Homo sapiens: one gene and its partners. Changing the gene in region 1 together with any one later gene gives a genetic interaction. Each region holds a gene or a part of one and is shown in the gene's direction. Other genes may lie near its edges. The genes, in order: WEE1, TOP1, ADA, RB1, CDC73, RRM2 and KDM5C.

Evidence for each region.
Region 2: changes in WEE1 (region 1) and TOP1 are lethal when combined (synthetic lethality), as found in Homo sapiens cells (one large-scale study listed by BioGRID).
Region 3: changes in WEE1 (region 1) and ADA are lethal when combined (synthetic lethality), as found in Homo sapiens cells (one large-scale study listed by BioGRID).
Region 4: changes in WEE1 (region 1) and RB1 are lethal when combined (synthetic lethality), as found in Homo sapiens cells (one large-scale study listed by BioGRID).
Region 5: changes in WEE1 (region 1) and CDC73 are lethal when combined (synthetic lethality), as found in Homo sapiens cells (one large-scale study listed by BioGRID).
Region 6: changes in WEE1 (region 1) and RRM2 together harm fitness more than expected from each alone (negative genetic interaction), as found in Homo sapiens cells (one large-scale study listed by BioGRID).
Region 7: changes in WEE1 (region 1) and KDM5C together harm fitness more than expected from each alone (negative genetic interaction), as found in Homo sapiens cells (one large-scale study listed by BioGRID).

The regions. Positions count from the first base shown.
Region 1 is NC_000011.10:9,576,670-9,580,169, forward strand, and holds part of WEE1 (wee1-like protein kinase), read left to right. Parts: intron 1-472; coding exon 473-594; intron 595-1,358; exon of another isoform or gene 1,359-1,462; intron 1,463-3,500. UniProt on the Homo sapiens protein: Acts as a negative regulator of entry into mitosis (G2 to M transition) by protecting the nucleus from cytoplasmically activated cyclin B1-complexed CDK1 before the onset of mitosis by mediating phosphorylation of CDK1 on 'Tyr-15'.
Region 2 is NC_000020.11:41,035,322-41,038,821, forward strand, and holds part of TOP1 (DNA topoisomerase 1), read left to right. Parts: intron 1-3,500. UniProt on the Homo sapiens protein: Releases the supercoiling and torsional tension of DNA introduced during the DNA replication and transcription by transiently cleaving and rejoining one strand of the DNA duplex.
Region 3 is NC_000020.11:44,648,900-44,653,138, reverse strand, and holds the start of ADA (adenosine deaminase), read left to right. Parts: upstream 1-1,439; 5' UTR 1,440-1,531; coding exon 1,532-1,564; intron 1,565-4,239.
Region 4 is NC_000013.11:48,310,251-48,313,750, forward strand, and holds part of RB1 (retinoblastoma-associated protein), read left to right. Parts: intron 1-3,500. UniProt on the Homo sapiens protein: Tumor suppressor that is a key regulator of the G1/S transition of the cell cycle. The hypophosphorylated form binds transcription regulators of the E2F family, preventing transcription of E2F-responsive genes.
Region 5 is NC_000001.11:193,125,031-193,128,530, forward strand, and holds part of CDC73 (parafibromin), read left to right. Parts: intron 1-81; coding exon 82-187; intron 188-3,500.
Region 6 is NC_000002.12:10,128,827-10,131,914, forward strand, and holds the end of RRM2 (ribonucleoside-diphosphate reductase subunit M2), read left to right. Parts: intron 1-21; coding exon 22-126; intron 127-214; coding exon 215-328; intron 329-407; coding exon 408-560; 3' UTR 561-2,588; downstream 2,589-3,088. UniProt on the Homo sapiens protein: Provides the precursors necessary for DNA synthesis. Catalyzes the biosynthesis of deoxyribonucleotides from the corresponding ribonucleotides. Inhibits Wnt signaling.
Region 7 is NC_000023.11:53,218,708-53,222,207, reverse strand, and holds part of KDM5C (lysine-specific demethylase 5C), read left to right. Parts: intron 1-1,291; coding exon 1,292-1,369; intron 1,370-3,500. UniProt on the Homo sapiens protein: Histone demethylase that specifically demethylates 'Lys-4' of histone H3, thereby playing a central role in histone code. Does not demethylate histone H3 'Lys-9', H3 'Lys-27', H3 'Lys-36', H3 'Lys-79' or H4 'Lys-20'.

The DNA.
Region 1 (3,500 bases):
AACATTTTGTCTTTTGCTCTTTTGTCCCCTATGGTGTTACTAACATTAAGGTTTCAGCTGGTCAAACACTGAATTCCATCTCTAACTTTTGAGAAGCTGTAATGATTTAATCAGGTCCTTTTCACTTAATACCATCAGTTCTTATTGGACTTGTTGAATAATATGAGTCTGATTTTGGAACCTAACTTAAATTTCTTATTTCTAGTCAGCATCCATGAATTCACAGTAAAATGGAGTTTATTCTTACCTGAGTCCTAGGGCAAGCAACATTTCTTCTTTCTGATAAATCTTTAATGGAATCTGCCTTTGGAAAAATCTCTTACAAGTCTAAACCCCTTCTCTCTTAAGCAAGTTGCTTTTTAGCATAACAATAGATACCAAAAATTTATTGTATGAAGTTTCAGATAAATTAATTCAGTTTAAGCTTGAGTGAAAATTATTTACCATTCTATTAATCTCAAATTTCTTCTAGGCAGAACGCTTTGAGAGAAGTATATGCTCATGCAGTGCTTGGACAGCATTCTCATGTAGTTCGATATTTCTCTGCGTGGGCAGAAGATGATCATATGCTTATACAGAATGAATATTGTAATGGTGAGTGATGTAATGGTTTTCTTGTGAGCTTGAGAAAATGAACATCGAGGAAATATTTATGGTTATCTAAAATCTTGCTCTATTTCTGTCACTTTTATCTTTTATAAATTTAAAGATCAGAGACCTAACATAAATTTCAAGTACAAGGTTAAAAACCTTGTCCTTTCTGAAGCACCTTGTACATATCTCAGTAGTAGAACTTCGCATACTATTTATGTGCTTGTCGCTCCAACTGAGCTTTTTGACAAGACTATGGCCTCGACACATATATTTTGGTGTCCGTAGTACCTAGCGTAGTGTGTGAAGCATATAGTATTATGAAGTGTTAAGTTGAATAGATTCTTCCTGTGTCTGGTCTTTGATTTCCATTTCATGTGAGGTGCTGCTAAAACTGATGTTTGTTAGTCACTGAGTCTCTGTTGATCTAAATTCAGCTGTTTCTTTAAGCATTCTGTAGTCCGGCCCTACTCCCACGTATCCAACCTAGTCTACCCTAGAATCCACTAACGCTTTATTATGTTACATTCTTTTAGTTCTCTAGCTTGTCGTCTCTCCCTCCTCTCCCCTAAGGATGAAACAAAACAGGCATGTATAGATTCAAGTTTGGATGTCTTGTATAGCTTTCAGTTTCGGTAAGTCCTTCAAGGGCCGACTTATGTCTCTCCTTTTCTATTAAAAACCTTTACCAAAGTCTTGGTCAGAATTCTGGTTCTTATGGACGTCTGTCATTATTATATACCAAATCTTTTATGGATTATTTCTCAACACTTTTGTAGTTTATAAGTGTGATGATTGGGTTTTCATACTCAAGTGTGAAATGTGCCTCCCTCAAACCTTGTTACGACATCAGCACATTACCAGTCTGAAATGAAAAATATCTGTAGTTTGTTTCTATTTCTGTATATCTTCTGTGAATATAGACAATTTAGAGTTTAGTGAACACTTGAGAGGAGATAACAAAATTTATTTTTGTTGATTCTTATTATTCCTTAAATAAACAAGACCAGTTATCTCATAACTTGTAAATAAATAAGTGGTGTAGGTATGGATTCAGGTTCCCCATATTTAAAAACAGTGAACAAAACAGAAGTAAAAGATCCATTTTTCAAACCTGATTCCTCATTATTTAATAAAGTTCTCCACACTTGAAAGAACTTGAGTGTCTAGTATACAGCCTTGCTGCTAGTTTTTTTCACACAGCTCTTGAAATGTTTCTATTCATACCATCAAAATATTTATGTAACTATCACAACCTTATGGATTATTCTATTTCTTAACCTTCATTTTTCAGGTATTGCATTTAACCTAGAACAACTTGACCACAATGTCGTCTCCATTTGATATTTGTTAGACACCATCTCTTTTCAGTTTCCTTCTTTCTCTTTCTCACCTTCTTGATGTGAATAATTCTCTTAACAGAATAGTTCATTAGTAGTCCAGGAATGTCAAATATGTAGCAACCTACCAATACATGGTTGTGTAAATCAGATGATTCTGAGAAAACTCACGTGGGCCTGGGAGATAGGGAACTGAGTGAGTAGTCTTGCTACCCTCTCAGATTACAAAAACCTTGTCCTGTAATGTTAGATTATAAAATAATCTATTGAAAATAAGTTTTTATTTATTTATTTATTTATTTATTTATTTATTTATTTATTTTTGAGACAGAGCCTTGCTCTGTCGCCCAGGCTGGAGTGCAGTGGCGCAATCTCTGCTCACTGCAACCTTTGCCTCCAGGGTTCAAGCGATTCTCCTGCCTCAGCCTTTTGAGTAGCTGGGATTACAGATGCGCGCCACCACTCCCAGCTAATTTTTGTATTTTTAGTAGAGATGGGGTTTCACCATGTTGGCCAGGCTGGTCTTGAACCCTGACCTCGTGATCCACCTGCCTCGGCCTCTTAAAGCAATATAAAACTCTTGAAGAAAATAAATAGTCCTGCATGAAACAGGACTGCCTCTTTGTGTGGCTATTTGTCCTACTTAGATAAAAGAAAATACGACTATCTGGATGCATTTGTGATCTCTTTTGTTTCCTGTGTCCACCGTTCCTCTCTCCACATAAAGCTTTGAATATACCAATAGGGCTCATCTTCACATCTTTTCCACAGTTTCACTGGAAAAGGATTCTGATATTTATTTGTACATGAGTAACTGATTCCCTTTATTGTGATTTAATTTCCTTATTATCTTATTCATTTGCATTATAAGCCTTTTATCTTGGTTTGGTGATAGATTGGAATTAACCTGTATAAACAAGTGTAGAAAAATATTGATGGATAGGGAAAGAGAACCTGAAATGTCAGAACCTGTTTTGCTCTCATCACCTTTCTTGCCCTTCTAGCAATAAGAGAAGAAATGGGCACAGCTATGGTTGCTGGACCTGCTAAAAAAGAGAATTAGCCATATTCTTTCTTAGCACATTTGATCTAGGACTTAGCCTATCTTGTCTGACAGCGTTATTGGTTTGCTCCCTTCTAGAGCACTCTTTCCCCTCCCTCAGTTCAAGATTTGTACAAGTAAGGAGAACATACTTAAGACTAAGATACCGAGATGTATAATTTATTTTAAAAACACATTTGACGTTATGTTATTTTCTTATTTAAATTATAGGACCTCCTTTTCTGACTAATACATCATTGACCTTCCTAATTTTAGTACCCAGCTCTGATTTTTTTATTCCTAAGCCTTAAACAGGAGATATTTAAAACAATTCCTCATTGCCTTTGAGATGAAATACAAACTTTAAAAGTTTGAAAAAATATAAACAAATTAACTGATTGATTTAACTAATTCTATAAAAGCAGGTTATGGTCTCATTCATAGTAAGAGTAGTATAAATTATAACTATACTAAAATACTGTCTTTTTACCTATAACATTTATAGACTTGTCAAGGGTATGGGGAAA
Region 2 (3,500 bases), on another chromosome or scaffold:
CAGATTTGGGGTGGGGAGGCATCTCTACCAGGCAATTAATTCCCCTCTGAGCCTTTGAAATTAACATTTTTGTTTCTGTGGATTCAAGGAGCCTAAAGAACACAGTTCATTAGCATTCCTAAGAAACACCTAGGTAAGCTCCAACAAAAGATGTTAAAGCAATCAGTATTTTTAGGGACTTCAGATCTCCTGTATTTGTTGTTGTAAATGATGATGTTGGGAAAAGAATTTAACAGATCCCTGGGTATTCTGACGTTTTCCTATATTTTAAGAACGAAACCGACCCAGCCAGCTTGTGGTCCCATTATTCTTTATATTGTTTTTCTTAGCACACGCTAGCAAAGATAGATGCCTAGGACTTTTCTTGGCTATTGGAGTTTATAGAAAAAAAGTTCTTTGTTGAAGGTTAGTCCTCCACCAGAATAATACACCCTTTTTCCCCTTAGTAGAAGTCCAAATGTTAATCTTGCTATCATATATGTATGAATGCCCAGATTTATAAAGCTTTGTAGGTATATTACTGATTGTGCAGGAGACTAATCTAGGAGGCTTCAGGATCATTGTCATTTGTGGATCTCATTGGCTAAGACCTTTTACTTAACCTGACTCCAGTAAGGTAGCCCCTTTGTTTCCTTGTAGTTGACTATGTGAGCTCTTGCCAAGCAGCAGAAGTGGGATGAAGGGAACTAATTTTGAAAACTTATTAGGCACCACATTTTTATGTGCATTAAATCTGAATTGAATAAAGATAATATAGATTGCATAGGCTTATGGGGAGAACCAGAGACCAGGAAAGGAAACGTTTTTTTCTTTTTACCCTTTATGCCTTTTCATGTCCCCTTTTTGATAACATGCTGCCTTGGTCCAGATTCTGGAAACCCCACTCAGGCTGTAATTGGTAAGCTTCTAGTACAGATGTCAGAACCTGCCCTTGATTATCTGCTGTTAGAGATAGCTTGGACCCTTTGTATGTGGAATGTTAGGTCTAGGGGAAGAGTGGGGGTGTGAGGAGACAGCTGTGGTAAAATAGAAAATTGGTGTAGGATTCCGAAAAATCGAGATAAGTCCCTGTTCTTCCTATGAAACATGATCTGACCACTGAACCTTGTTTTCTTATCCATAAGCAAGGATAATATTTATGTTTCACAAACTGTTGAGAATTAGATAAGTATATGAAGGTGCCTCTCTGTCCTCATTGTAAAATGTAAACTTTGATGAGACAGCCTCTATTCTCAACTGGATCTTTATTTTGAATGTTAGGTTTGAAATAGTGATTGATGTTGGGGAGTCTGTCTTTCATTGGTATTCCCTGTTAAAGTTTTAAATCTTCTTGACATTTACACAGTGAATTGTAACATGTAACTAGTGTTGTTGAGTCTTTACCTAATTGAATCAGCAGAGCCTACACTGATGTCTTCCAGTTACAAAGCGGTCACTGTAAAGTAAAAGGTGTCTTCATATCTAGGTTTGGGCTGAGAAGGATCCAATTGTATATCTAGTTCCTACTTTTCTTTTTTTTTTTTTTTTGAGATGGAGTCTCACTCTGTTACCCAGGCTGGAGTGCAGTGGCGCAATCTCGGCTCACTGCAAGCTCCGCCTCCCAGGTTCACGCCATTCTCCTGCCTTAGCCTCCTAAGTTGCTGGGACTACAGGCGCCCGCCACCACGCCTGGCTAATTTTTTGTATTTTTAGTAGATACAGGGTTTCACCGTGTTAGCCAGGATGGTCTCGATCTCCTGACCTCGTGATCCACCAGCCTCGGCCTCCCAAAGTGCTGGGATTACATGCATGAGCCACCGCGCCAAGCCTAATTCCTACTTTTCTAAGAATGTTTACAGCAAAGTGGTCATTGCCAAAGGAACTTGTAGCAGTACAGAAGATGGGCTCAGAAATGAAAGAAGTCTATTGATGTGACTAATTTCTCAACCATTTAATAGAATTATGGATTTTCTATTAAAAATAACTTGACCCTTTTCGATGCATTTAATAAAATGCCAAGTTCATTATTTGTTAATTTTTTAAAACCACAAAATTCAATATGTCTTGTGTCAGCATATTTTTTCAAAGGCCACTATTTTACTTCTCCCCCAAAACGTTTTTAAATTAAACAGAGAACTCTCAAAGCACCTGAGAATTACTTCAGTTTTTCATTTATTCAAATAGTTGCTTAAAGTGACCAACTTGGTTTTCTTTGAAATAGTAATTCTTGGGAATAAGAATACCTTAAATAATATAATAAAGCTTATGTGTGAGAATTTAGTACCAAATGCCGTGTTAACAGTTATGCGTGAGTATAGGCATTTGGGAGATTCCATGAAAAAATTTGATAAAGTCAGTAGAAATTTCAGTAATGGCTCATAAGTCTAGCTAATGCTGAATATTGAATTGCCTTGAATTTGTTTTTTTGGAAGTGTTACTTAAAGGAAATAAACAAAAGTCATTTAAGGATGTGTTCACTAGTGTTCATTAGGTTTAAGCCAAATGGATCTTAGTAGAGATCTTACGCCATTCAGCAAAAGGATTATCACAGAAGCATCACAACAGGCGCAGACTTAAATTCAATTAAAAGTAGGCAGGAGGACATAATTTTGTTGTATAGAAATTATGGAATAGGGCCTAATTTTAAAGAGTCTTCAAAGATAAACATATCAGGAAAAATATAGCTCATAAAATATGGGGAAAAAAATCTGGGAAGATGAGTATTTGTTAATGCTCTGTAGCTCCATTGCCCTCAGTATACAAGGAATGTGCCCACAATAGGGTTGGATTTAAAAGTCTTCAAAGCTTTGGTCTCTTTTTCTTTCGTTTTCCTCTGATACAGAATGCGAATAGTCTCCCGGCCTCCAACCCCCTCTACATCCCCACCACCCCATAATAGAGACTTAAAGGGAATTTAAATTCGAGTTCTTGAGCTTCTGCTCAATGGCTAGGTCTTTGAACAAGTTAATATCAGAGCCTTAGTTCTTCACCTATAAAGTAGGTTTAATACTTACCTTACAACATTGAGGATTAAAGAGCATGAGAGGATTACTTTATGAAAGGTGAAGCTTAGAACAGAATTTTTAGTTCCTTGCCAATGCTAAAAAACAACAACAACAACACCTTTTTCAGAAATTGCTTTATTAGGCTTTTGTACAAAGGGAACATCTTTACTTTCTTTAAATTTGCACATATATCTATTGTGAAATTTTAACCAAGCTGGAGGGGTCACTAGGGAGCATTGAGTATGATACTATTGCTGTAAATCATAGAAAGGCTGGCTCAGGAGGGTACTGACTTGCTTTGACTTTGCGGCAACTTCAGTTGTCCAGTGACAAGGCTTGCTGCATACACACCACTTTGTTTGTTTCTCATACCTTAAATTGTGGATTAAAAATCTTTGGGGCAGGCCTGGAGGCTCATGCCTATAATCCCAGCACTTTGGGAGGCCGAGATGGGCAGATCACTTGAGCCCAGGAGTTCAAGATCAGCCTGGGCAACATGGGAAAAACCTGTCTCAA
Region 3 (4,239 bases), on another chromosome or scaffold:
CGCCTGTAATCCCAGCTACTCGGGACGCTGAGGCCGAGAACTGCTTAAAATCCAGGAGGTGGAGGTTGCAGTGAGCCGAGATTTCGCCACTGCACTCCAGCCTGGGCGACAGAGCAAGAGTCCATCTCAAAAAAACAAAAACAAAAACAAAAAAACAAAAAACAAAAATTAGCCAGGCGTGGTTGTGGGCGCCTATAATCCCAGCTACTCGGGAGGCTGAGACAGGAAAATCGCTTGAAACGCTGGGGGTGCGGGGGAGCGGTGGGGAGGAGGCGGGCCAGAGGGGCAGAGGTTGCAGTGAGCCCAGATCGCGCCACTTCACTGCAGCCTCCGCGAAAGAGCGAAACTCCGTCTCAGTAAATAAATAAATAAATAAATAAATAAATAAATAAATAAATAAATAACCTGTACCCGCGTGTTATTTCCCTCCGTCCTTACCTCCTCCCGGCTCCTTCCCTTTCACCTGAGATAACCACTCTTCTCGTATCTATGCTCATCTTTCCCTTGCTTTACATTTTTTCCACCGATGCATGTGTCTAAACATACATACTTTTGGTTTTGCTTTTACACATTCTAAAAGTTGCACCATTGTATGCAGTTTTCCGCAACTTAGTTTTTTTCACTCAACATTGTTTCTGAGACATTGTTTCTGTTGTTGTCTGGCTGAAGTTCATTCCGTTTCACTGCTGTCTAACGTTTCATGGTGTGAATATTCCGGTTTATTTGCCCACTCGCCCGTGGAGGGGCATTTGAGGGTGTTTCCAATGTTCCTGTTATTCGGAATAGCGCTGGTGTGAACATTCTGCACAGGTCTCTGGCTGCGCCTGGGCGGGTTTCTTAAAGGTGAATGCCCAGGAGGGGACTGTCTGTGTTCTCCCTCCCTCCGAGCTCCAGCCTTCCTCGCCTCCTTTCACTCCCAGCTCCCTGGAGTCTCTCACGTAGAATGTCCTCTCCACCCCCACCCACCCCTGATGAACTCCTGCAGGTTCTGCAGGCCACGGCTGGCCCCCCTCGAAAGTTCCTTAACTATACAATTATGGTGTGTGTTTCTGCGACGAGCGTCCGTCTATCCGGTGGAAGGCACGCCGCTCGAGGCTTGCGATGCTCCCGGGGTCCCCGCTTCTAGCTTGGGCCTGGCGCACAGCAGCGCCCAGACTGCAGGGGGACGCTTGAAAGTTGCTGGAGGAGCCGGGGGGAAGGCAGCGCCCAGCGAGGCGGCTGGAGCGCGCGCCCACAGGTGGGTCCGGTCGGGCGCCGCGGGGCCGTAGTTTTCGGGTCGGCGGGCGAGGACGCCGGGTCCAGAATTCCAGGAAATGCGCGATCCAGGCCGGCGGGCGGGGCGGGGGCTCCGGCGAGAGGGCGGGCCCCGGGAACGGCGGCGGGCGGGGCGGGAGGCGGGGCCCGGCCCGTTAAGAAGAGCGTGGCCGGCCGCGGCCACCGCTGGCCCCAGGGAAAGCCGAGCGGCCACCGAGCCGGCAGAGACCCACCGAGCGGCGGCGGAGGGAGCAGCGCCGGGGCGCACGAGGGCACCATGGCCCAGACGCCCGCCTTCGACAAGCCCAAAGTGAGCGCGCGCGGGGGCTCCGGGGACGGGGGTCCGGCGCCTGGGCGGCCCGAGGGGCTTAGCGGGGCCCAGCCCGGGGCGTCCAAACCCTGGGAACGAACGGGGGCTCCTGCAGGCGAGTTCTTCCTTCGGCTTAGGCCGTGGCTTGCTTGCGGGCTAATCAGGGACAATGGGGCAGAGAAGGTCCAGAACCCGGAGGCCTCCAGAGTCTGCTTCTGCCCCTGACTTGACCCCTCTGGGTCTCAGTTTCGCTGTCTGTCAAGTGGGCATCCTAGCACCGCTGAGCGCTGTGTGGGCCTGGGCAGGGACTTGAGGTCTCTGAAGCTCAGCTGTATGATCAGGCCCGATGTCTACGCCGGATAGGCACCTAGTGCTGTGCCCGGCGCCTACTGAGTGCTCAGTGAATGGAAGCAGCTTTGTACGCCAGCGTTATGGTGGTGAGCGCCAAGGAGCTCAGGTTTGTGGATGCGCCCCGGGGAAGAACCGTGAGCCCTGCCAGAAAGGGGAGGGAGGGGAGCAGAGCACCCCCCTTCCCCCGCGCGGGAAGAACAGGAGCTAGGTAGGCCCTGGGTTTGGGGCCCTAGCAGGGTTCACTCGAGGCCAAGCCATGGCCACTGGCCCCAGGGGAGAATCCCCTTGTTTCTCCGCCCACCAGCTGTGGCGTCTTGGGACTGTTGGGGTCAGGGAGGGTCTGGACCCCCTTGGCCTGTCGCAGAGTCCGAGAGGAGGGGCCCAGGAGTCTGCCAAGCAGGGTGAGTCAGCCAGTAGGGTGTGAGAGTGGTTGGGGAAGGAGTCAGCTGCAGTCAGCCTCAACTTACCCTTCTAAGAAATAGGTGTGAGTGGCCCAGGAGGTTGGCTCACGCCTGTAATCCCAGCACTTTGTGAGGCTGAGGCGGGAGGATCATTTGAGTCCAGGAGTTTGAGACTAGCCTGGACAACAAAACTAGACCCCGTCTCTCCAAAAAATAAAAAAAGTTAGGGGAAGTGTGTGTGGTGGTGCACTCCCGTAGTCCCAGCTACTCAGGAGGCTGAGGCGGGAGGATCGCTTGAGCCCAGGAGGTTGAGGCTGCAGTGAGGTGTGATGGTGCCACTGCACTTCAGCCTGGGAGACAGAGCGAGACCCTGTCTCAAAAAAAAGAGAAGAAAAAGAAAAGAAAAGAAATAGGTGTGAATGATGATGACAGCTATCACAAAAGTGCCGGTGAGAATCCAGTGAGTGTGCATGTGTCAGTGAGGGAGACAGGCTGTGGAGAGCCCACCTACCTTCTGAGGAGGGTGAGGCCTGGCCCCCACTACTGATGCCCCCAGCCCAGGGAAAATGCTCAGCTACTCCCCGTCAGAAGCTGGAAGCACTGAGGTGCTGTACAAGCCCTCCTACCCCCACCCCTGCCTCCTTCACGTCTTACTGGAGCTGGGGCCCATGATTGGCGCCTCCCCTTTGCAGTCTTTTTATTAAATGCTCTGGGCTCCCTCTGCCCTTGGGCTGGGGACCCACTGTACCCTGATGTGAATCCTATGGCAATAGCAAAGCTCTTTGATTGGCGGGGTGCAGTGGCTCACGCCTATAATCCCAGCACTTTGGGAGGCAAAGGTGGGTGGATCATGAGGCCAGGAGTTCGAGACCAGCCTGGCCAACATGGCAAAACCCCATTTCTACTAAAAATATAAAAAATTAGCTGGGCATGGTGGCGGGCGCCTGTAGTCCCAGCTACGCAGAAGGCTGAGGCAGGAGAATGGCATAAACCCAGGAGGTGGAGCTTGCAGTGAGCCGAGATCTCGCCATTGCACTCCAGCCTGGGTGACAGAGTGAGACGCTGTCTCAAAAAAAAAAAAAAAAAAAAAAAGGCTCCTTGATTGCGAACATGTTGGGAGTTATGGAGAGAACAGCAGGGCCCACTTCTAGAGCACTTGTTGCAGACACCCATTGGATCCTTGCAGTTCTTCTGTAACAGCCCATCAAGGGAGGGGCTCATATTATTATCCCCATTTTTTGGCCTTGCTCAGTCCTCCCATCTGATTCAAGCTGGCAGATCATTTTCCCTATTGGGACCTCAGTGTCCACACCTGGAGGATGGAACATCAGCTGCTTATGTGGGTGTCCCGTGTCCTGAGTCCCAAGGCCACAAGGTGATGCTTGAGAGTGAAGGTAGAATGTTACCTGCCATGTGTTTGAGGCGTGACAAATCTTGTATGATTGTGAGGAGGAACTTGTGTGAGCTGGCAGGAGAAGTGGGAAGGAGTGTGAATCTCAGAGCCACTGTGACCAGAGCCAGCTCCCTGCCCTCTTGTGGGAGGGACAGATGACAGTTATAATTATTAGCATTACTAGCTGCAGCTAATGGAGTGTTGATGTTTCTGTGCCAGGCACCGTTCTAAACACATTATCTGCATTTTTTATTTAATCCAGGCACAGAGAGGTTAACTAGGCCCAAGATCACACAGCTAGGAAATGTCCAATCTGGGGTTTGAGTCCAAGGGAGGCTGGCTTCGAAATCCCATGCCTCTAACCATCTTTCCTAAACTACCTCTGCAGAAGCCTTTGGGGATAGAGGTGCCAGTGCCCCAGGTGCAAACCTCCTGAGACAGGAGCCTTTGCTGTGTCCTTCAGCTTCTCATACCTGCCACCAGCTGAGGCCTGGGACCTGGTCAGCTAGAAGAAAGCAGAGCAGGGCAGC
Region 4 (3,500 bases), on another chromosome or scaffold:
TAAATGTGTTTCCAGTGCAGCTATTCTAGTGGCAGTTGTCTCTCTTCTTTGAAACAAGAGGAGGAATATTGTCAAAAAGGAAACCCTTTTTAACAATAGAAAGTAGGTGATGTTTATTGGGATAGAGGATGGGTTAAGAGCAAGGATTAAGAGTCAAACAGATATACCATGTCCGAACTCCATTATCTTGAACATGTTATCTACAATTTTCAAGCCTTAGTTTTCTTACCTGTAAAAGGGACTGACAGTAATTTCTGGATCTTGGAGTTATGTGCAGATTAAATAAATTAATGCATATAAAGCTCTTATTAGAGTCAATGAGTATGTATATTAGGTCTTGCAAACAGAATAATTTTACTTAAGAAATACCCCAGAAAATTTTATCATTGATGTATTTTTTTTTAGGAGAACTTAGGATATCAGTTAAAATGGTTACAATTTTAAATGCATTGTAGTGATTTTGATGTAGTAATGTTTGTTAAAATTCTTATTTTTAAGTACTTTAGCATCAGAAAAGTTGTTTATGCATACATGAAAGCATATATTAATCCCTTTAAAGGAAAAGTTTGTGGTATTTTGTCTAGAAAAGTGTTTTCTTTTTTTAAAATAAATATTTAGTAAAGTGTAATAATAAAGATTAGCTTTGTTCATAAGGTTAGATTGTATTTATGCTGATTATAGCATATGAATAGGACTTTCCATTAAGAAATTGGCTAAGGTGATGTTCATATTGTGACTTAAGGTGAATCAGCTGTTAGAATTTTGGTTTACTTTCTGCATCTTGATTGGTAGTATGGTAGAATGGAAAATGCCTTGGACCTCAAGGCAGGAAACTTTGGTTGTAATTATATTGTAGCTATATGATTTTAGGCAAATTGGTTAATTCTGTGAGTCTCAGTTTGCTCACCTGTAAGGCAGAAATAATGCCTGAATGTGAACCTCATAGGCTTTTTGTTATACATACATATATATGTATATGAAATGTATGATATACATATCTCAAAGAGCTTTGGGATATATTGCTCTTGATAGAACCACTTACTTATTTTTGTGATATGGTGGTTATATTTTAAATAAATACAGTCATGTGTTGCTTAACAATGGGAACACATCTGAGAAATGCATCATTAGGTGATTTCATCGTTGTGTGAACATCATAGCATGTACTTACACAAACCTGGATGGTATAGCCTATGACACACCTATGCTGTGTGGTATATAGCATGTTGCTCCTAGTCTGCAAATGTGTACAGCATGTTACTGTACTGAACATTGTAGGCAATTGTAACACAATGGTAAGTATTTGTATATCTATACATAGAAAAGGTACAGTAGATCATCCATATCCTTACTGATTTTCTTTCTATGTGTTTTACTAATTATTGAGGGAGAAATATGAAGCCTCCAACTATAATTAGAATGGTCCTTTTAAATTCTGTTTTTTATTAATGTATTTTTTATTTTATTTTATTTTGAGATGGAGTCTTGCTCTGTCACCCAGGCTGGAGTGCGTGGCACGATCTCGGCTCACTGCAACCTCTGCCTCCCGGGTCCAAGCGATTCTCCTGTCTCAGCCTCCCGAGTAGCTGGGATTATAGGCATGCGCCACCACACCCGGCTAATTTTTGTATTTTTAGTAGAGACGGGGTTTCACCGTGTTAGTCAGGCTGGTCTCGAACTCCTGACCTCATGATCTGCCCTCGGCCTCCCAAAGTGCTGGCATTACAGGCGTGAGCCACTGTGCCTGGCCTTTATTAGTGTATTTTAAAGCTTTATCCTTGGGTACATACAAGTTTAGAATTTTTATGCCTTTTAGGTAAATTGGTACCTTTATCATTATGTAATGTGCTTTTTTATCCAAATTTATATCTTTTGTTCTGCAGTGTCCACATATCGATTCCACTTTTCTTGTGATCACTCTTTACAATGTGTATCGTTTACCTTCATTTTGATTTTAACCTATTTCTTTTTTATATTTAAATGGATTTTTGTTGTTTTGTAATCAGCATTCATTAAAAATTTTTAGCTGAATACTTTTTACTTTTGTTAGGGTTCCCTGTGTCTCTTCCTTTCATGTTGTGCCACAGATGAGCCATTATTTATATCTTTTCTCTCATTGGAGGTTCCTTTTTTTAGGGGAAATTAAATAATCTGAAATATAAGGAAAGGATATGTTGATTTCAAGAAAGGTTGTTTTTGTTCCTTATCTGGCTTGTTCTTGTTGTGAGGGTGGGAGCAATACTCTTTGCAGCTTTCTGCATTCTAGGAAGAAGTGGAATTTTACACTACCATTTGCTTTCTTTACAGGTTTACCTTGGTATTCAGTGTCTGTCCATAGGACTAATTAAAACTATACCAGACTCCTTCTATTTTAAACCTATCCGTTCAGTCTCAAGTTATCTTTTTGCATTGCCTCTCACGTCTGTCCCTTCATTTCTTTTACCAGCAGTGCTTGGTTTTTACTGTTTGCTTTGGTTTTAATTTCCTTTTTATTTTTTTAATTTCAGAAGGTGGAAGCTTATGTCATTGACTTGAGCATTTTTTATGCATGTTTTAGTGCCTCTTTCTGACTAGTCTCTTCTTTTCTCCATCCAATCCATCCTGTGCCTGATTTTTAGAAAAGACTGGTGTACAGTTTGCCCCTTTTGCTTTAAAATTTATTTTTCATTGTTACAACCCACTCTCAGTAGCCTCCATTGTAACACCCTCCCATGCTCCCACCACCATTATGAAGAAGTAAAGTCCAAACTTTCTCAGTATTTGTAGTTCTTCATGGTCTGTGCTTTAACCTTCCTTCCAGTCTTATTTTTTATTTCCATTGTTGGCCCCCAATGCCTGTGTTCTCTTCCCTTCCATATGAATCTTCCATATGAATATCTTCCATATGAATATGATAGTATTCATATTCATGCGATCTCCCCTTTTTTTGGAATACCCTTCTTTTTTCTTTTAGCCTAAATTCTGTTTTTAAGATGCAGTTAAAGCTTCTCCTTTATGCATATCTCTTATAAGATATATTATTTGCAGACTTTTCCCCCCATTCTGTGAGTTGCCTTTTCACTTTCTTGATGATGTCATTTGCAGCGTAGGATTTTAATTTTGATGAAGTCCAGTTTTCTATTTTTTTTTTGGTGGTGGTTTTTTTTTTGGTTGCTTGGGCTTTTGATGTTGTATCTAAGAAGGCCTTGACTAACCCAAGGTCATGAAGACTTATTCTGTGCTTTCTTCTAAAAGTCATATGGTTTTTAGTTCTTGTCAGTCTTGGGTTTTTTTTTGTTTTTTTTTTTTGAGTTAATTTTTGTGTATGATGTGAGGAAGAGGTCTAACTCCAGTCTTTTGAATGTGGATATCCAGTTGTCTCTGCACCACTTATGGAAAAGACTATTCTTTCTTCATTGAATTGTTTTGGTGCCCTTGATGAAAATCAGTTGACTATAAAAACCAGGGTTTATTTCTGGAGTCTCAGTTCTATTCCATTGCTCTGTATGTTTATTCTTTTT
Region 5 (3,500 bases), on another chromosome or scaffold:
AAGTTGTTTATATAAATGAATCCAGCCTGAAGAGTTGAATTAGAATTGTCAGTAAAAAAAATCTTGCCTTAATTATTTCAGGACTGGAAAGGAAGGCCAACCCAGAGAGTACTACACATTGGATTCCATTTTATTTCTACTTAATAACGTGCACCTTTCTCATCCTGTTTATGTCCGACGTGCAGCTGTAAGTAGAATTCATTTTACTTATCTATCTATTTATCAGTTTTATTTTTATTTATTTAAGAGACAGGGTCTGGCCTTGTTGCCCGGGCTAGGGTGCAGTGGTGTGATCATAGCTCATTGCAGCCTCGAACTCCTAGGCTCAAGTGATCTTCCCACCTCTGCCTTCAAGTAGCCAGGACTGCAGGCCTGTGCCACCGTATCTGGCTAATTTTTTTTGTTGTTGTTAAAGATGAGGGGGTCTTGCTGTGTTGCCTAGGCTGGTCTTGAACTCCTACCCTCAGTGGATCCTCCTGCCTCGGCCTCCCGAAGTGCTGGGATTACTGGCATGAATCACTGTGCCTGGCCAATAATTCATTTTAAAACTTTTTTTTTTTTTTTGAGATAGGATCTGGCTCTGTTGCCTAAGCTGGAGTGCAGTGGTGTGATCTCGGCTTACTGTACCCTCTACTTCTCGGGCTCAAGCCAGCCTCCCACCTCAGTCTCCTGAGAAACTGGGACTATAGGCATGGCCCACCATGCCGGGCTAATTTTTGTATTAACACATTTTTTTTTTTTTTGGCTTCGTGGTAGTAGGTATCATTTGGAATGGATAGCTTCCCTCATGGGTTTCAAATCAAAAGAATGAAAGGTTTGTATGAGTGTCTCCAGGAGAGTCAAAATTAGGTGACTGTGTGACTTACACAGACTTTTTAATCTGTGATATTTTTTCATGTAAAGTGTGGGTAATGTTTATAACAAAGGAAGTTTTAAAGGGATTTATAGAGCCAGGCTTCTTAGTGCACGCTGGTAATCCCAGCTACTTGGGACTCTAAGGCGGTAGGGTTGCTTGAGCCTAGGAGATCAAGACCAGCCTGGGCAACATAGTGAGATGCCATCTCAAGAAAAAGAAAACCCGAAACGCTAAAAGTATTTATAGAGATGTTTAGAAAAACTTGTAAGCCTGTGGAAGGACCCTGTTACTTCAGAACTCTAGTTTAATCTCAAGAAAACTTTTTTTGGTTGTAAGGATTAAGATTAGCAGACATTTAAAAAAATTGTTTCTTAATCAGTTTTGTGCAGCTGTTTTAGTACTCTGGAGAAGTTCATTTGTTTTTAGTTTTGCTTGCTTTCTCAGTGTTTGAAAATTTATTACTCAGAGGAAATATTTGGAAACAACTTGAAAAGAACTAATTTCATAAACTATGATGATGAGATTCTTCATCTGTAGGGAAGTATCATTAAGACCTAAATTATAGCAGTATATTATAATTGATAAGTAAATAAGATTCAGAGTTATTTGGATAGGATAGCTGTATGACATGGAAAAGTACTATAATGCCCACATAAAATGGCCTAAAAGATATTTAATTTTTTTAAATGAGCTTTTCCCTCAGATTATTTTTGGTAGAGTTGAACATAAAATTTTTTGAAGATATAATTGAAATAATTAAATGTCTGCTTTTAATATTTGTTGCTTTTGCTTACAAGTATACACTTAAAATTAAGTATGAAATGTATTTATAAATAACTACTTTTTCCCATTTCTTATAGTTCTTAAAACAATCTTCTTAAACTTTTCTTATAGTTCTTAAAACAATTTTTTAAAATATCACTGTGTCTGTCATCACTGGAGCTGCTTTTTGAGTTACCTAACACCGTTGCTGGATCACATTAAGCTGTGTGAAACTTAACTTCTATAACTCTAACCTCCCTCCCAACTAGAAATAGTTAAGGTTTCTGGCTTATGTATCTTTCAAACAATAACTTGTTGTCTAAAGCAACTAAAAGCCAGGTGTGGTGGTGCATGCCTGTAGTCCCAGCACTTTGGGAGGCTGAGCTCAAGTGGGAGGATCACTTGAGCTCAGGAGTTCAAGACCAACCTGGGCAACATAGGGAAACTTTGTTAAAACAAAAAATAAAAAAAATTAGTCAGGCGTGGTAGTGTGCACCTATACTCCCAGCTGGCTACTCAAGGGGCTGAGGTGGGAGGATCACTTGGGCCCAGGAGGTTGAGGCTGCAGTAAGCCATGATCACACCAATGCATCTATCCTGGGTGATAGAGCAAAGACTCTGTCTCAGGGAAAAAAAAAAAATGTGTGTGTGTGTGTGTGTGTGTGTGTGATTATAGCAATTGAGAAAGTATCCCGTCACTTAGTGGGCTTTGTATTAAACCATAAGGCTTCTGCTTTCCTGAGTAAGAAATATATATTTATGTTACATATTTAAAAAAATAAAATTAGAGTGGGACTACTTGGGAAAATAAGGGGAAAAAAATAGCACCAGCTCCGTCTTTAAGGTTATTTTAACTCAGATCTTTAAAAACTAAATTAGGTAGTTCTTACAGTGTTTTGTTGGATATATTCATTTTAGTGTAACAAAGATTCAGATAGTTGGCTTAGATTTATAGATTCTGTTTTTGGGAAATGGTTGTGCATATAACTGATAGCTGTAATTGTTACTGTGGACCTTGGGACCCTTGGTTGCATAAGATTTAACTCATTTTTCATAAGTATTTGCCAGATTGAAAGAGTAGGATTCTAAAATTCCAAAATTCTATGAATTCGAGATTGTTGTCTCCTAATTACTTTGTGTTATTTGCTCTTTCCTGTGCGCAGACCACTCATTTTTTTTTTTTTTTTTTTTGAGTGCAGTGGCGTGATCTCGGCTCACTGCAACCTCCGCCTCCTGGGTTCAAGGGATTCTCCTGCCTCAGCCTCCCAAGTAGCTAGAATTACAGGCACACGCCACCATGCCTGGCTAATTTTTGTATTTTTAGTAGAGACGGGGGTTCACCACGTTAGCCAGGTTGGTCTTGATTTCCTGACCTCGCGATCCGCCCGCCTCGACCTCCCAAAGTGTTGGGATTACAGGCGTGAGCCACTGCGTCCGGCTGAGCAGACCACTCTGAAAACAGATTCCTGATCCTTAGTTCCTATTTTAGTGTGAGTAGATGTAATCTTTTTCAGTGGATTGTGATGTGTACATAACTCAGTAGTGACCAAATGATGATGTAAGTTATTAGACTTAGAAACAGTAACTTAAAATTAACTCAAATCTTTTAACTGTTTATGATATTCCATATAGACTGGTTTATTTTTATTTTTTATTTTTTTTTGAGACAGAGTCTTGCTCTGTCACCCAGGCTGGAGTGCAGTGGCAGGATCTTGGCTTGCCACAGCCTTACCCTCCCGGGCTCAAGTTGTCTTCCTCCTTCAGCCTCCTGAGTAGCTGGGAGTATAGCTGGGACTGCAGGCGCTTGCCACCATGCCTGGCTAACTTTTATATTTTTGTAGAGTTGGAGTTTTTCCATGTTGCTCAGGCTGGTCTCGAACTC
Region 6 (3,088 bases), on another chromosome or scaffold:
ATCTTGAACTTTTTTTTCTAGGGTTTACACTGTGATTTTGCTTGCCTGATGTTCAAACACCTGGTACACAAACCATCGGAGGAGAGAGTAAGAGAAATAATTATCAATGCTGTTCGGATAGAACAGGTAAAGTGGGTGATGAAATGGGTCACTCAAGCTTGCTAGAAAATGCCTGTGCTTTAGTTGTATTCAGAAGCTGTATTTTGGTTCCTAGGAGTTCCTCACTGAGGCCTTGCCTGTGAAGCTCATTGGGATGAATTGCACTCTAATGAAGCAATACATTGAGTTTGTGGCAGACAGACTTATGCTGGAACTGGGTTTTAGCAAGGTAAAGTATTGTTTACATAGCCTTTTGCTTGTTTTGAAGCTGGTGCTCTGTATTTATATCTTGATGTGAACCTTTTCAGGTTTTCAGAGTAGAGAACCCATTTGACTTTATGGAGAATATTTCACTGGAAGGAAAGACTAACTTCTTTGAGAAGAGAGTAGGCGAGTATCAGAGGATGGGAGTGATGTCAAGTCCAACAGAGAATTCTTTTACCTTGGATGCTGACTTCTAAATGAACTGAAGATGTGCCCTTACTTGGCTGATTTTTTTTTTCCATCTCATAAGAAAAATCAGCTGAAGTGTTACCAACTAGCCACACCATGAATTGTCCGTAATGTTCATTAACAGCATCTTTAAAACTGTGTAGCTACCTCACAACCAGTCCTGTCTGTTTATAGTGCTGGTAGTATCACCTTTTGCCAGAAGGCCTGGCTGGCTGTGACTTACCATAGCAGTGACAATGGCAGTCTTGGCTTTAAAGTGAGGGGTGACCCTTTAGTGAGCTTAGCACAGCGGGATTAAACAGTCCTTTAACCAGCACAGCCAGTTAAAAGATGCAGCCTCACTGCTTCAACGCAGATTTTAATGTTTACTTAAATATAAACCTGGCACTTTACAAACAAATAAACATTGTTTGTACTCACAAGGCGATAATAGCTTGATTTATTTGGTTTCTACACCAAATACATTCTCCTGACCACTAATGGGAGCCAATTCACAATTCACTAAGTGACTAAAGTAAGTTAAACTTGTGTAGACTAAGCATGTAATTTTTAAGTTTTATTTTAATGAATTAAAATATTTGTTAACCAACTTTAAAGTCAGTCCTGTGTATACCTAGATATTAGTCAGTTGGTGCCAGATAGAAGACAGGTTGTGTTTTTATCCTGTGGCTTGTGTAGTGTCCTGGGATTCTCTGCCCCCTCTGAGTAGAGTGTTGTGGGATAAAGGAATCTCTCAGGGCAAGGAGCTTCTTAAGTTAAATCACTAGAAATTTAGGGGTGATCTGGGCCTTCATATGTGTGAGAAGCCGTTTCATTTTATTTCTCACTGTATTTTCCTCAACGTCTGGTTGATGAGAAAAAATTCTTGAAGAGTTTTCATATGTGGGAGCTAAGGTAGTATTGTAAAATTTCAAGTCATCCTTAAACAAAATGATCCACCTAAGATCTTGCCCCTGTTAAGTGGTGAAATCAACTAGAGGTGGTTCCTACAAGTTGTTCATTCTAGTTTTGTTTGGTGTAAGTAGGTTGTGTGAGTTAATTCATTTATATTTACTATGTCTGTTAAATCAGAAATTTTTTATTATCTATGTTCTTCTAGATTTTACCTGTAGTTCATACTTCAGTCACCCAGTGTCTTATTCTGGCATTGTCTAAATCTGAGCATTGTCTAGGGGGATCTTAAACTTTAGTAGGAAACCATGAGCTGTTAATACAGTTTCCATTCAAATATTAATTTCAGAATGAAACATAATTTTTTTTTTTTTTTTTGAGATGGAGTCTCGCTCTGTTGCCCAGGCTGGAGTGCAGTGGCGCGATTTTGGCTCACTGTAACCTCCATCTCCTGGGTTCAAGCAATTCTCCTGTCTCAGCCTCCCTAGTAGCTGGGACTGCAGGTATGTGCTACCACACCTGGCTAATTTTTGTATTTTTAGTAGAGATGGAGTTTCACCATATTGGTCAGGCTGGTCTTGAACTCCTGACCTCAGGTGATCCACCCACCTCGGCCTCCCAAAGTGCTGGGATTGCAGGCGTGATAAACAAATATTCTTAATAGGGCTACTTTGAATTAATCTGCCTTTATGTTTGGGAGAAGAAAGCTGAGACATTGCATGAAAGATGATGAGAGATAAATGTTGATCTTTTGGCCCCATTTGTTAATTGTATTCAGTATTTGAACGTCGTCCTGTTTATTGTTAGTTTTCTTCATCATTTATTGTATAGACAATTTTTAAATCTCTGTAATATGATACATTTTCCTATCTTTTAAGTTATTGTTACCTAAAGTTAATCCAGATTATATGGTCCTTATATGTGTACAACATTAAAATGAAAGGCTTTGTCTTGCATTGTGAGGTACAGGCGGAAGTTGGAATCAGGTTTTAGGATTCTGTCTCTCATTAGCTGAATAATGTGAGGATTAACTTCTGCCAGCTCAGACCATTTCCTAATCAGTTGAAAGGGAAACAAGTATTTCAGTCTCAAAATTGAATAATGCACAAGTCTTAAGTGATTAAAATAAAACTGTTCTTATGTCAGTTTCTTGATTGGTAAAATTTGCATTTTAATTCAGGAAGAGAAATATTTTTTGGCCAGGCATGGCTGTAATCCCAGCACTTTGGGAGACCAAGGTAGGCAGATCACCTGAGCTCAGGAGTTCGAGATCAGCCTGGCCAACATGGTGACACCCCATCTCTACTAAAAATACAAAAATTAGCCTGGCATGGTGGCACACGCCTGTAATCCCAGCTACTCGTGAGGCTGAGGCAGGAGAATCACTTGAACCCGGGAGGCAGAGGTTGCAGTGAGCTGAGATTGCACCGCTGCACTCCAGCCTGGGCAGCAGAGTGAGACTGTCTGAAAAAAAAAGGTGTTTTTTGTAAAGGCTAACGAATTCATTTGCTTTCCACTGGTTCTGGGCAAGAGACTTGCCTTGTGCCTATTGGCACAAGGTGTATAGGAGACAGGTACACCCGAAAGGTGGTGCCCAAAAATACTAACTGCCATACTGCACGTGGGGTTTGTGAAGCCGGGGCTG
Region 7 (3,500 bases), on another chromosome or scaffold:
TGTCTCTCCCCCCCGCCCACGTGTATGCATGTATGTATGAACATTGATGTCTGGTGTAGTGCAAAGGCCTTGGATCAGAGGTCAGAAGACGTGGGTTCTTGGCCCCACCACTAACTCAGCATGTAATTTTGGAAATTTCACTTTTTTTCTCTGAGCCTCACTTTCCCCATTTATAAAATGAGAACATTGGTTTAGGTTACTTTAGGTTGATTTCACCACCCCAGCAGGAGCCAGGGCTCTGGGAAGGAGAGGTCTGCATAGGAGGTTGGAAAGGGGTGTTGGAGAGGGGGTTCTTCACAGCTGACCTTTGGGCAGGACACAGCAAGCTCCAACTTGGCAGAGCAGAGTGTCTCCCACTTTCATGATCTTTCCCTGACTTCCCTCCCCAAATCCTCCCATTCTTTGCCACCACAGTCAGGCATCCCAGCACTTACCCCCACCCCCTGGGGCTTCCTCCCCTGCCTCTTCCTGTACCAGGCAGGTGTATGAGAGAGGATCTACAGGAAGCCTTCCAGACTGGGTGAGTGATACACATACTTGCTCCCTGTTCCTTGCTCTTCCCTGCAGTGTCTATCTCAGGCCCTTTAAACTGAGAGAACAAACATTAAAGGCCCAAACCTTTACGTCCTGCCACAATCGGACCTGAGCTACCCTGCATGTGTATTGTGAGGTGTGGTCAGCCTTAGATGTCAGGTCATAACGGTGACTCCTTTGAATAACATTTTCATTTGAAAACTAGTTTTAATTTTCCATATTGGTCTGGCAAGGAAGCCAGGGCTAGAGTTCATATTCCCACCTCACAGATGAGAAAACAGGTTCAGAAAGCTAAAATCTCATAGCTAGTAAGTAGCGGATCTAGAACATGAACCCATATCTTCTGACTCTAGATCCTGTGTGCTTTCCAGTACTCCCAGGCCTGTGTGTCCTACAGCACGTGCCTAGGGGATAAGGAATTAATGTGGGTGTGGAGAAGGTTTAGGGTCAACAAAACAGAGGCTCCATCTCTTAATTTCTTGAAATCCTGGCACTGTACTGTTGGGTGGGACTCAGGAGAAGTTTCCTAGGGCATGTGCATGGGGCCTTGGGTGCAGACTTGAGGGGCTGCTAGACTCTTGTGAGTTCTGGGGGGAGGTGGGGGTGGGTGGTTGGGTAGGATGTTTGCAGGTTAAAGGGTCTGGAGTGGCTAGAGGTTTGGGAAGGTGCCAGTGGGATTCCGAGCTGCTTTTGGTGACTTCCGGTCTTACACTATGCTGAGATAACTCAAGTCCCTTTCCCCTCTCTACCCTCTCAGGACTGGCAGCCACCCTTTGCTGTGGAAGTGGACAACTTCAGGTTTACCCCCCGAATCCAGAGGCTGAATGAGCTAGAGGTGAGAAGACTAGGAGCTGGTGGTGGGGTTGGGAGAATGTATACCTGAGTTCTAATCCCACTTCCCTTATAGTTTCTCTGGCTGAGGTACTTTACCTAGCTAGGCCTTTATTCTCTCTTCTGTGAAATTGCATTACTTTAGTGTGCCCAGGGCGTGGAAGAAGCTTTAGAGCTCTAAATATAACCAAGAGCCAGGGGCATTTAGCATTTGTGATTTGATAGCCCAAAGGCTGGGGACATATATCCCTTTCTCACAAAGGTTTGCTACTTCTGAAACTCCCCTGTAAACTAGCCTACCCTAGCTGAGTCAACAAAAAGGAATTATGGAACTGGCTGATACCCCTTCTTCCTTGGCCAGCTGAATGTGGCTTCATATATCCAATTCATCCACAGCCCTGTGCTTTCTACTTTGCTTCCATGGGTGCTTGGTAAGGTGGGAGTTTGGGTAGATGGGCAGAACAACACAAGAACTGGGCTCTGTGGAGGCTGGAATGGTTAGAGACTTGGCCAGGGGTCAGGCAGGTAGGATTTTCCTTCTCCCTTTTGTTCTGTACAGGAAGTCCAGGCCCTTTTCATGGACAGGTGGGGTTTTTCCTGCTTGAGAATGCCCTGGGGTAGTGAGATTAGGTTCCCTAAAGCCAGTTCCACGTAAGATCCTGGAGTTTTCCATGGCAGCTCTAGGTTAGGCATATGTTGCCACTCCCTCCCCCATTATTATGTACCCACAAATCTTAATAGATGTCCAAGGGGTGGGGCATTAGGCCCAGGCCCAGCTGAATACTTATACCCTAAAAGTTCACTTGTGTTCTAGACCAGAGTTCCTCAGCCTCGGCACTATTAACATTTTGGGAAGCTAAGGTGGGAGGATTGCTTGAGCTCAGGAGTTCAAGACCAGTTTGGGCAACATAGCAAGACCCCATCTCAGAAAAGAAAAATATATCTTGTCAGGTTTATAGGGGTACAGCTTGGGCAAGATGTTGCCTAGCATGACACAAGGGCAGGTTTTCTGTAGAGGGAGTGCTGACTAATAAGAAGGAGCAGGGATGAGGCCAACTTCAGAAAGCTAAGGGGCTGAGGTTGAAGGAGCACTTCCTTGCCCTTTGAGAGTTCTCACAGCCAAGGAACTGTAGGTTGTTTCTTTCTACAAATAGACCTTAGTTTTTCTCAACTATGAAATGGAAAGAGCTGTCTTTGTTCCCCCTAATGGGATCAGGGCAAGGTAGTGAATGGTAATGACTATCTAGTTCTTCCAAGAACCAGGCTCTCTGACTGGAGTGAGGAGGTTGTAGACTTGGGGCCTATGGGAGTCCTTCTTGGTTACTGAGATTTCAGGGAAGCATCATACATATCTTGTTTCTAGTCTCCTTGGCCCACATTGGGTCCTGGGTTGGCCAGGTGCTAGTGCTACTCTGATATACCATCTCTTAGTTCTAGGCCATTCTGTCTATAGTTATAGCATGCACTTTCACCCTTTAGCCACCATGGAACAAGTTTGGTGGTACATAAGGAGGTGCATGTGCCTTTTTGGAGCTTGCTTTCTCTGAAACATGCCTAGAGCTTAGATATAATTCTGAAATCTGCAGAGGATCTTCACTGGTCCCCTCATTAAGTCTACCCCTCTGGGGTAAGTGGACTGTGCAGTTATTTTCCTTTTATAATTATTAGTAAAAGGAAAAAGGAGTCCACAGTGGAACTGATTTGCTCAAGGCAGCATAGCAAATCAGTAGCAGAGGGAGAGCCAAAGCTCAAATTATTTGGCACCAAAATATCTTGATGCTTGCTGTGTGTCCTAACTCCTCTGAGCCTCTGTTTCCTCATCTGTATAGGAGATGATAATACTCACATGACCTTGTCAGGGAGATTAGAGGACATATCTAAAGCTTTTGGCAGTTGTGACCCTCTCTATTGGGACCTTGGGCTTCTCTGATTGACTGGAAGGTGACAAATGAGAGAGAGGTGGCTGGGTGCAGTGGTGCAGTGGCTTGTGCCTGTGATCCCAGCTCTTTGGGAGGCCGAAGTGGATGGATTGCTTGAGCTTAGGAGTTTGAGACCAGCCTGGTAACATGGTGAAACTTCATTGCTACAAAAAATACAAAATTAGCCGGGCGTGGTGGCGTGCGCCTATAGTTCCA